Linked DNA regions of Homo sapiens: region 2 is linked to region 1. Evidence: fine-mapped expression QTL. Tissue or cell type: nucleus accumbens. Region 1 holds a variant in brackets; the other region holds the start of a gene. All regions are shown on one strand. Distances are from middle to middle.

Region 1 (5,366 bases):
ATAAGCCCATTGGGCCAGAAAAATTAAAACCCCATGACAAAGGCCTTTGATGTTGTTGGATTTCACTTGCTCTTGCATCCAGCTCTCTGCCAGGCCAGGTACTAAAGCCCAAGGACAGAGTCAGCCGGGTTCCCGGCTTGTCTTCCTGGTGACCTTGGGTTTCTACCAGCCCTTCCAGCTTCTGGATGTGAACCTTCCAGCAGAGTCCTCTGTTCATAAAGACATCCTCAGCCTCCACTGTCCTAACCTTCAAATCTGTTAATACTCAACTCCACAAATGATGGAGGGATGACGGGTGCCTGCCATGGTGAATACTTCAGATCTATTTCATAAGGAAAAGCATCCTTTAGTAAAAAGAAGAGAAAAATGAAGCTTTTTCCCTAGTACTTCAAAGCACGTGGGGCCCAGTGGCACTTCCTGCACCAGGGCTTTCTGCACCATCTTCTCCTGGGTCTTTGCTTTGTCTGCTCTGAGTGGATTGTGTGCCAATTTCTCCTTCCTCTCCTGGAGAACCCCTTTTCTTTTCAGCACCATCCCAAGGACGGGATAAAGTCCTGGTGGTTTGCTCTAGTTAACTATTGCTGTGTATCAAACCACTCCAAAACTTAAGTCGTTTAAGACAACAATATACTATGGTTCATGTATATGTTGACTAAGTCAGCCAGGCAGTTCTCGTTTAGGGTCTCTCATGGGCTATATTCAGATAAATGGAGCCCGGATATGGATCACCTAGAGTCTGAATGTGACTGGACCTCCAAGATGAATCATGCACATGGCTGATGGTTGACATTGACTGTCAGCAGCTCAGCTGTGCTGTTATCCAAAGCACCTCCATGTGGCTTCACCAGATGGCCTGGACTTCCCACATGATCGTGGCCAAGTCCCAAGAGGGGGTGGCTCATGCCTGTAATCCCAGCACTTTGGGAGGCCAAGGCAGGCTGATCACCTGAGGTCAGGAGTTCGAGACTAGCCTGGCCAACATGGTGAAACCCCATCTCTACTAAAAAATAAATAAATAAATAAACAAAAAATACAAAAATTAACCAGGAATGGTGGCAGGCACCTGTAATCCCAGCTACTCAGGAGGCTGAGGCAGGAGAATTGCTCAAGCCCGGGAGGGGGAGGTTGTGGTGAGCCAAGATCACGCCACTGCACTCCAGCCTCAGTGACAAGAGCAAGACTGTCTCAAAAAAAAAAAAAAAAAAAAAAAAAAAAACAGAAAATCTATGGAACTCAGCTGTGTCACATACTCAGAAATGTCCCGGTGCTCCCCCCGTGTGCTTTATTTATTTTTATTTTTTTTAAGATAACAGAATTGGAAACCAAACATCAAACTGCTTCCTGGGGGGTCTTCTCTGGACTTATAATTAAGAATAAAAGGTAACCAAAAGAAAGGAGAAAAAGGCATGGAGGGAAAAGTGAAAACGCAACTTAAAAAAAAAAAATGAACATTGAGAGTTTGAATAATTCCAAAACCCTTTCTGTTTAAAAGCAAAGTAAATCTTCCAGAGCATCAAAGCCCTGTAGAGAGCAAATGGGGTTTATAGTGAAGATCCTAAATCCCCAATCTGAAGACTGCCCCTCCCCCACTGGTGCTAAGAGCAGAGGCACCAAGCCATTCACTCGTCCCCTGCAGGAGTAAGTAGGTTTTCCTCCAGCCTGTCGCGGGCTCCTTCCTGAACCATCCGGGAATGTCTCTGCTCTGAGGGTCTCTCTCTCCCCTAAAGAATCCCTGTCCACCTCTGTAGGGGGCATCTGGGAAATGGGTGGAGGACACAGCGGGGCGGCGACTGGCCCCTTCCTTGCTGTGTGGCACAGGGAAATCTGCCCCCACCCTGTGCCCAGGCCCGATCACGCATGAGGCTAAAGACGGTGTGTGTGAAGCTGCTTCCAGTTTCTTGTAGGATTATACAGCTGTAAAGAGGGCCAGGAAGAGAGAGGGGGATATTGTGATTTGCATTTTGCACTCCTGATCTTAAAAAATTTGTATCCCAGCAGGTTTGGGAAAAAGAGCCCTGGATGGAGAGTTTCACAAGCTGGGGTCTGACCTATTTCACCACCCACTAACTGTGGGTCTTCCATTTTCCCACCTCACCAGGCCACGCGGAGAAGCAGCTCTGCTCCCCTCCCTCTGAGGGGTAGGGGGACACCCTCACCCCTCAACCCTTTGAAGCCACTCATTTGTCCCCGGCTGCCTCCTTTCAGGCCACTGTGGGGAGCTGATAAGAAGAAGAGTTTGCAAACGGGCTACCATGGAGAAAATTCACAAGTTGTTTTCCTAAAAAGGGAGGAATTGGAGTGGGGGCGGGCATGGTGGGGGCAGGGCCCGTTCCCTCGGCTCTGGAGGTCTCTATATTCTTTAGCTCTTAATCATTAGATCGGAAAAGGGGGGGAAGGGCAGGCAATGGAGGCAGAGGAGGAGGGAAAGGGGAAGAAAAAAACTCAACAACAACAAAGAGCCAGCCTAACACTCAGGTCCTCGGGGACCCAGAACTCCATTCAGAGTTTTCAGAAAATAGGGTCAGGCATGTCTTGTGACCTGAGACCCCAGAGCTCCTCTGTTCCCCATAATTATCTAATACAGCACTCTCTCTGCCAAATACAATGAAACAATTTGTCACTTCAATTATCTGTCAGTCAACACTGAGGCCTTTTCAGCAGGCCAGCACATGTGTTTGGAGAGCTTGTCAGTGAGGGCTGTCTAGCCAGACCCATAACCACGGAAAATGGAACCTTTGTTAATTCTGGTTCTTAGAAAAGTAAATCCATTCAATTTCTCTCCTCTCGCTCTCTCCTTTTCTAAA[T/G]GCCTTCAGCTTGGAATTCGCACAAGGAACTGAATTGGTCCTGCTCTGAACTTCGGATGACTGGCCGAAGGATTTGCATGAGGAAGCAGAAATTAATTATTCTTTTCGGGGCTTTTTCCCCCTCGTTTTCTGTAATTCTGTGTTAGAAGCGAGATTACACCCTGCGTTACCAGCGGATGGGGGTGGTGAGGGATAGGGAAGTGGGGGCCGGGCTGGGAGAGGCAAGCGGTTCCTGAGTTCAGCCCCGCCAGCGGCCCTGCTTTCCTTTTCCTTCCCTGCTCTCATGTGGGAAGAAGGCAGCTCCATGCCCGCCGCCAAGGGGAAGGCGGGACATGTGGCTCCCTCCGGAAGGGCGCTCCCCTTCAGGGTCCTGGGGATTCTCCACTTGGAGAAATAAAGGAAAAGGAAATGGGTCATCCCTTGGGCAGAGCCTGACTTCCACTCCTAGACACAGACCTAAGGCTATTTCCTGCCAGGACGCAGAGGCCTCCTCCCCTGTGGGTGGACAGGGACCTCCACGCTGTCAGGGACCTCCTCCCCGTGAGGGCAAAGCAGGTCCATGGCTGAATCATTGAGGCCTGCCTGGGAAGTCTGTACATCAGTGATATTTCCCAGAATGGTCTAACTTTAAATACTCCAGCCCACCGTCAGACCATGTGCGAAGCTGCATGTCTCCATTTGGGGTTGAGAATTTGAAGCTGCTCTAAGACCGGGTGCCAGCACCCAAGCCAGAGGACCCCTCCCGGCTCACAGGGGTCCTCGCACAGAGAGATGCTGGTGTGCTTTGAAGGTGGGAGCTGGGGGTAGGCAGTGGTTTGGTATTTCATAGCTCAATTGTTTCCACAGTAATTGGGTTTTTTTTAGAGACAGGGTCTTGCTCTGTCCCCCAGGCTGGAGTGCATTGGCACCATCGCAGCTCACTACAGCCTCAAACTCCTGGGCTGAATCCTCCCACCTCAGCCTGCCAAGTAGCTGGGACAACAGATGTGCACCACCACACCCAGCTCAATTTTTTTTAATTTTTAATGTATTTATGTATTCATTTATTTTGTAGAGACAGGGTCTCCACAAACGTTATGTTCGTAACATGTTGCCCAGACTGGTCTTGAACTCCTGGCCTCAAGCAATCCTCCCACCTCAGCCTCCCACAGTGCTGGCATTACAGGTGTGAGCCACTACACCCAGACGCCATACTGATTTTCTTCATACATTGACCTATAACAAATAAAATTATAATGTTTTAAAATTTACATCCATGACTTCATATATGCTAAATGCTTTATCCCACTTTAGACTTTTACAGATCCTCTCTATGAGGGCCTGTTTCCTCCCCATCCAACACAAGCCCAAAGCCGGGATCCAGTACTTCCTGCTTCTGGGAGGGTTTCCTTTCCCTCCTTCCAGTCCCAGGACCCAGAACCACCAAAGAACACACATTGGTGTTTTCCAAGGTATTAGAATCGTGTCCCCAGGACATCTGAGAAAACAGGTCCCTGAAAAAGTTCAAATCAAAATCTCTCTCGCCCACAGATGCACTGGAGAGTGTCCATCCTACAGCCTGGCCTCTGTGTCACCAGAATCATTCTTGCCTCTGCCCTTTCTGTCTGCTTTCTCCCCTGCCTCACTTTCTTCCTCTCTTCTTCTCCTTTCTTTCCCTCTTTTTCCATCTGCTTCCTTTCCTGCCTTTTCCCTGCCAGACTTTTCTCTATATTGTTTCCTCATTTATCCTTCCTTAGGATTTTGGCCTCTTCCTGTCTTTTTCCTTTTTGAGTCCAAAGAATTTCACAGCCATCCCTGTAGTGTTGGATTGTACAAAGAGAGAAACCACCCTCTTTTTTCCTTTTTTTTTTTTTTTTTTTTTTTTTTTGAGACAGAGTTTCCCTCTTGTCACCCAGGCTGGAGTGCAATGGCACAATCTTGGTTCACTGCAACCTCCACCTCCTGGGTTCAAGCGATTCTCCTGCCTCACCCTCCCAAGTAGCTGGGATTACAGGTGTGTGCCACCACATCTGGCTAATTTTTGTATTATTAGTAGAGACGGGGTTTCACCATGTTGGCCAGGCTGGTCTCAAACTCCTAACCTCAGGTTATCTGCCCGCTTCAGCCTCCCAAAGTGCTGGGATTACAGGCATGAGCCACCATGCCCAGTCTCTTTTTTCCTATTTTATAGGTAAGAGAATATAAGCCGGAGTGTGGACTCTTAAATTCAGTCATTGCTCAATAAAGAAAGAAATCTGCAACCACCAGGTAGGCCCAGTCCCAGCCAGGCCTGTAATGGGTGTTCCTGCCTCCATCTCACCCCCAGAACAGAGCGCACTTTTCCCCACGTGACTTAGGTGGCAGAAGTCCTCTAACACGCCATCCTGGCAGCCAACATGAACGTGGTCCAAGAGGGAACTGGGTCTTTTTCTCCTGAGCTGTGAGTGGAGCCTCTTTTCAGCTCTCAAGGAAGAGTCCATCTTGGGGGATGTGGCAATGGGGGAAGAAAATCACCTTTCTTTCTAAATGATCTCAAAGTTAACCTGGCCCTACAAAATGAGCACTCACTTTGAGAAGCCACAC
Region 2 (5,366 bases), 34 kb before region 1:
ATAAAAGCATAAAGAATAAACGAATAAAAGAGTAGTGCATGCATACTTATTCTCATTGGAAAGTGCCAGTTACGACCCCACAGCCACAAGCCATAAGGTTATGAGGATCAGTAGTCTGGTTTGTCTTGACCTGCCCTCTACACACCTACACACACACACACACACACACACACGCCCCACCCTCCCCTCCACAGGGACCTCGCAGGAAATCACGTGGGGCTCCCTTACACCAGGGATTGCAGTCCTGGGGAGGGTGGTGTGCCATCTCAGGGCAGAGCCCCCCACCAAAACCACTGAGGGGAAAACCAGTCCCAAGCCCCACTCCCGACCGGCCCTCTCCCCACTTTTCTCTTTGCTCCTCAAAGACCTGTCTTGGGAGGGTGACTACCTGAGCGCTGCTGGGAGGAGTGGAGGTGAGTGAGGACGGTTCCAAGCCAGGCTGAGAAGGGCGCCGACCAGTGGAACTGCAGCCAAGGGGCAAAAGGTGTCCGGAAGACAGCGATTATGGGGTTTCCCCATCCCATCACAGCCTTTTGGGGGCTGGGGTGAGGGATTCTTTCCTCTCTTCTTCAGGCAACCCGTCCAATCCCCCCATGTTCCCTGTGGACTGCAGCACCTTTTCCGCAGCCGAGCCCCCTAAGGTGTCCACTCATGTCTGCAGACGGTCCCAGAAAGAGACCATCGGAAGCCATTGGGAATGGACTCCAGGTCAGGGCTGGGCACAGCCTCACAGGGCAGGGCTGGGCTAATCCCCGCTGGCTGAGGAAGGGGAGAAGGAAATTCCCGCAGGCTGCAGGGGATGGGTGCAAGCCAACAGAACACAAGGCGCTTTGTTTGCTCCAGGTAACTGCTCAGTTCTCGCTCACAAAGTGCAGATGCATCCGCTACCCTCACTCCACTCCCAACACCAGAGTTGACTCTGAGAGCAGCGGTGCCCAGACCTGGCCACTGCGGGCAATCAGTGCCGTTCCCATCCAGCCATCCAACGACAGTCACTGTGGACCCATCTCCACCCTCCCTAGAATAAGCAAAAGCATCTAAAATTTGGGGTATCCCTTTCCCCCACCTGCCCAAATCCTCACTCTGAGGAGCCAGGTGACTGCACTCCCCTCTTTTAGCATCAATAACAGAGGTTAAAGACACTTTAAGGTGAGCTAAGTGTAGGCAGTCTTTCTCCCCCACCCTAAAGGCCCTCCTCAAAAAGCCCTCAGGAAGCCTGCGTCTGTGCTAAGCGCAGCTGGGGTACAGCTCCCCAATCCCTGACCCTCTCCACACCTCAGAGCCTAAACTTCGCTTCTAAAGAATTCTGGGTTGAATTTACTTCTATAGAAGTCAGGTCTGTGATGTGTATATTTTATCTTTATATCTATTTCATTTTATTTGACTTCCCAGGATTTTTTTTTCTTCCCCCTCAAGAATTGCTCTTTAAACATAAGGGGGTTTTGAGAGGAACCTCGGGCCGGTCCCTCAGGCTGTTAGGAAAGTCTGCATTTTGCAGAGCTGCTCTCCCCGGGAGGAGATGAACAATGAGCTAATTACATTTTTATCTTTCTAATGAGCTGAGGATTTGTGTAAATGAGAAAAGCAGGGGGTACGCTAGAGGGAGGGAGAAAAGACTTTCCACCCCCAGCCCTCCGAGGGCAGAGCTGGTACCTGGAAGGGGTGGAGAAACAGAAGTCCCCACGGTTCCTAAACTTTCTCAGCCAGTTTTGCAGCAATCCCAAGGCTACTTGACTGAATGACCAGTGAAGGAAAGGGCTTGGTTTTATTTTTTAAATCTTTGTCGAACCTATGAAAATAAACAAAAGCTGCTCCAAGCATTCTCTCGGCCTTTCTGAACTTTCTACGCTTTGGGTTTTTGTTTTTTCCTCCCGTCTCAGAGGTTAAAAACTTCGATAGGGACTCGGAGTCCTCCTAGAGGAGAGGGAAGCTCCCCTGTTATTTAAAGCGCAAGGCTTTGTTTCAGGTATGGGAAAGGCGAAGTTGGATCCCAGGAAGAGCGGCTCCGGGGACCACAGCGAGTCCCTGCGAGGCCAAGGCGCAGAGCTGCCGCTCCCGGGCCAGCCCCGCCGTGCACCTGGGTCGCGAGGGGCGCTGAGCGATACCTGGGACAGACCAGACGCGCTTAGGAATCACGTGCACAGCATGCGAGCAACCTCGGGCCCTCAGTCCCCAGCACCGGGACCCAGCGGCGGGCGGGCGTAGGGTGGCGCGGGTTCTCCTGCAGCTCCGGCCGGGGGATGGAGGGGGCGGCTCGCGCACGTGGGAGGAGGCAGCCTTACCTTGGGGCTTGGAGGCTTCGGTGGCATTGGGCGGCGTCATGGCGATGCAGACGTCCCCCTCGGGGAACTTGTCACACTTAAGCATCTCGGGCCAGTAGAAGCCGAAGAACTGCATGACCGGCTCGCACGAGTCGCGCACGGCCTCGCAGAGCCAGCGACACGGGTAGATGGGCCGGTCCAGGCAGACGGGCGCGAAGAGCGAGCAGAGGAAGACCTGGGTGCCGGCGTGGCAGTTCTTGTTGAGCAGGGGCACCCAGCTGCTGGCCTGCTGCTTCACCTCCGCCATGGTCTCGTGCTCCAGCAGGTTGGGCAGCACCATCTTCTTGTAGCCCACGTTGTGGCACAGCCGCAGGTCCGCGGGGATGTCCACGCACTGAGGTGGCTTGGTGTAGAAGCGCCCGCTCTGGTACGGGCCGATGTCCGACTGGAAGCTCACGTAGTCGTACTCGCTGGCCGAGCCCACGGCCAGAAGCGCCGCGCCCAGCGCCAGCAGCACGCCCAGGGCTGCCCCGCGGCGGCCCCCCTCGCTGCGCCCGATGCCCATGCCGGCTCTGCGCCCTGTTCTCCGCGACGTCGGGGCTGCCTCCGCCGCCTCCCCGCGCGCGTCCTGCCGCAAACTTCCAGGGACCTCCGGGGACAAAAGGCGCAGTCCCCAGCGTTGCCCGGCTCCGCGGCCGCAAGCTGCTGCCCGGTCCCCCCGGCCAGTGGCGGCCCTCGGCCTGCGGTCGGAGGCGGCGCGGGCGGGGAGGCGGCGCTGCGGGCTGGGTGCGCCCCGGCTCCCGGAGGTGCGGCGAGCAGGAAGGCGCGGGGCGGCGGGCGCGCGGCACTGACTCCGGAGGCTGCAGGGCTGGAGTGCGCGGGGCTCCTACGGCCGAGCCCTCGGAGCCGCCCCGCGCAGCCAATCAGCTCCCGGCGGGGCGAGCCGCACTCGTTACCACGTCCGTCACCGGCGCGGGAGCCAATCGCCTCCCTCGCGAGCGGGTTCGGTTTACTAGAACCAGACGCGGCTCAACACCCCTTAAAAAACAAAACCAAAAATACATAAATAAAAGGGGGAGGAGGAAAGAGACAAGGGGAGAAAAAGAAGGGGAATGGATCACGGCGTGGGGTGGAGAGAGACCAGGGCGGACGCTGTAATTAACTCGCATTGGCTTGCAGAGAAGCGGGGAGCCTGGATCATACTTGCAAACCCATGAAATTATGAAGACTTTTTTTTTTTGAGACAGTTTCGCTCTTGTTGCCTAAGCTGGAGTGCAATGGCGCTATCTCCGCTGACTGCAACCTCCGCCTCCCGGGTTCAAGCGATTCTCCTGCCTCAGCCTCCCGAGTAGCTGGGATTACAGCCGCGTGCCACCATGCCCCCGCTAATTTTTTGTATTTTTAGTAGAGACGGGGTTTCACCATGTTAGCCAGGCTGGTCTCGAACTCCTGACCTCAGGTGATGCTCCTGCCTTGGCCTCCCAAACTTTTTTTTTCTTTTTCTTTACACTGCTTCCTAATTTCAACCAACAGCCCTTTAGACTAGCGGCTCCTCTCCTCGGTTCTCTAGCTGCGGTGCAGACAGGTGGTTTCCCAACTAACAGGGGTTCAGGAAGGCTGAAGCGAGGGAGGTCTGCTTGTAAATACCCAGTGGGCCTGGCTGGGCTCCCTGGAAGGCGAGGCGAAGGCGCAGTTGGAGCTGTTTGCTGTGAGCAGCACCTCTCCAGGTGGGGCCGCCCATGGTGGCCCTCAACACTGGGGCAGTGGGTGGACTTTGCCCGGTGTGGCGGCAGGAAGAGCTGCTAGCAACGGTATTAGCTCTGGGAGGACACTTTTTTAAATATATAATATATATTTAAATAGAAAAACCCTACTCAAGTCCTAGCCCGGGCGACAGCACATCTGTGTGTTTGTGGTGTGGAAAGCCAAAACATTAAAAACACATGTGCACTTATCAGCGTGGCTGGTGTAAATACCAAGTCCATCACTCAGGCACACATGCTAAGGTTAGACCCAGTCCAGGAACTTCAAGTTAAAATCAAGGGTCCCCACTAGGGCAGACGCCAAGAGGACGGTATCAGCACAACAGCTCGGCCCCCAGGAACAGAAGTCTCTCTGCCACCTTCTACCTCGAATTCCTGAGAATTCTTCGTAGGTTTCAAACATTCCCCTGAGAGGGAGGGTTAAGCTCTGGAGAGCTGGGAGTGAGACCCGGACTATCCCGGGACAGAAGACCACAGCAAATAGTTCATGAAGTTCCTGGAGTCTCCATATCTTCTGTCCCTAAGTGCGGGTGGAGAGAGGCTGATATATTCATAGCCCAGTCTGAGCGCACACCCCATGTGGCAAAGGGGTCACAGATCTTAGCGCTCCACAGAGACACTATAGGGCGCGCTGCCTTGCCCGCCAGCTTGTTTGTAAAGCTCTAGGGAGCTTGCTTTGGACTCTGCAAACCTAATTTCTTGATGGACAGATTCCAAGTGAAATGACTAGAGTTTGTGAAGAAGCAGGGCTGTTTTCTTAAAGCATTCGTGCCCGTACAGACACGGTGATTCCACGGTGCACACAGGAGGCTTCTGCAGATGGATGACTTCTCTGTCATTTCGTGGCCAATGGAAGATGCCTTGACACTCAAAAGGTGACATGGAGGCTGGAAGGAAAACACAGAGAAGAGAGAGCAAGATCGGGATGGCCAAGGGTTAATCCCAAGACAATTGGTGAGGCCGGCCTGTGGAGCTGAGGAAGACATTCCTCACAGAGAATAAGACCGCAGGAGACCCGGCAACTGTGTCTCAATTCAAGGGGCATTTAGAGAAAAATGCTGTTTGGTAGGGGGTCTTTTTGTCTCCTAGGGCCAGGCCCTCCACCTCAAGCCAAATGCGTCTGTTTGCTCACTGCAAAGATGGATGTTTGCAGATAACATCCTCTCACCTCTGAACCCAGGCTTAGCTGACCGCTCACTCACGTTTTCAGTTTTCCCGAATGGCAGGAGGACTTGTGTCTGTCCACGGTTAAATGCTGGAAATTCGTCCAGGTGACTGCCCTGGAAGTCCCAAGTCAGGAGTAAATCTCACAAATCCATTCAGGGGAAGACCTCGCCTATGT

Alleles and levels. Positions count from the first base shown, and alleles are read on the strand shown. Sizes are in standard deviations (SD) of each study's normalised expression.
With allele T in place of G in region 1, the expression in nucleus accumbens of the gene that starts at base 3,140 in region 2 is lower (moderate effect, 0.64 SD a copy in GTEx).

Evidence for each region. PIP is the estimated chance that this variant, and not a neighbour inherited with it, causes the effect.
Region 2: SFRP1 starts here. The variant in region 1 is fine-mapped to the expression of SFRP1 in nucleus accumbens (GTEx, PIP above 0.99).

Annotation. Positions count from the first base shown.
Region 1 is chr8:41,340,158-41,345,523 of GRCh38, forward strand. No RefSeq gene overlaps it. Among named protein-coding and RNA genes, the nearest start is that of SFRP1, 33 kb to the left of the region's middle. The variant T/G (reference allele first, on the strand shown) is at 2,805.
Region 2 is chr8:41,306,334-41,311,699 of GRCh38, forward strand. SFRP1 (secreted frizzled related protein 1) reads right to left here and starts at 3,140. Exons shown (of 3, transcript NM_003012.5): 1 at 2,283-3,140. The coding sequence starts at 2,826. RefSeq lists enhancers at 1,318-2,089, 2,090-2,860, 4,780-5,307.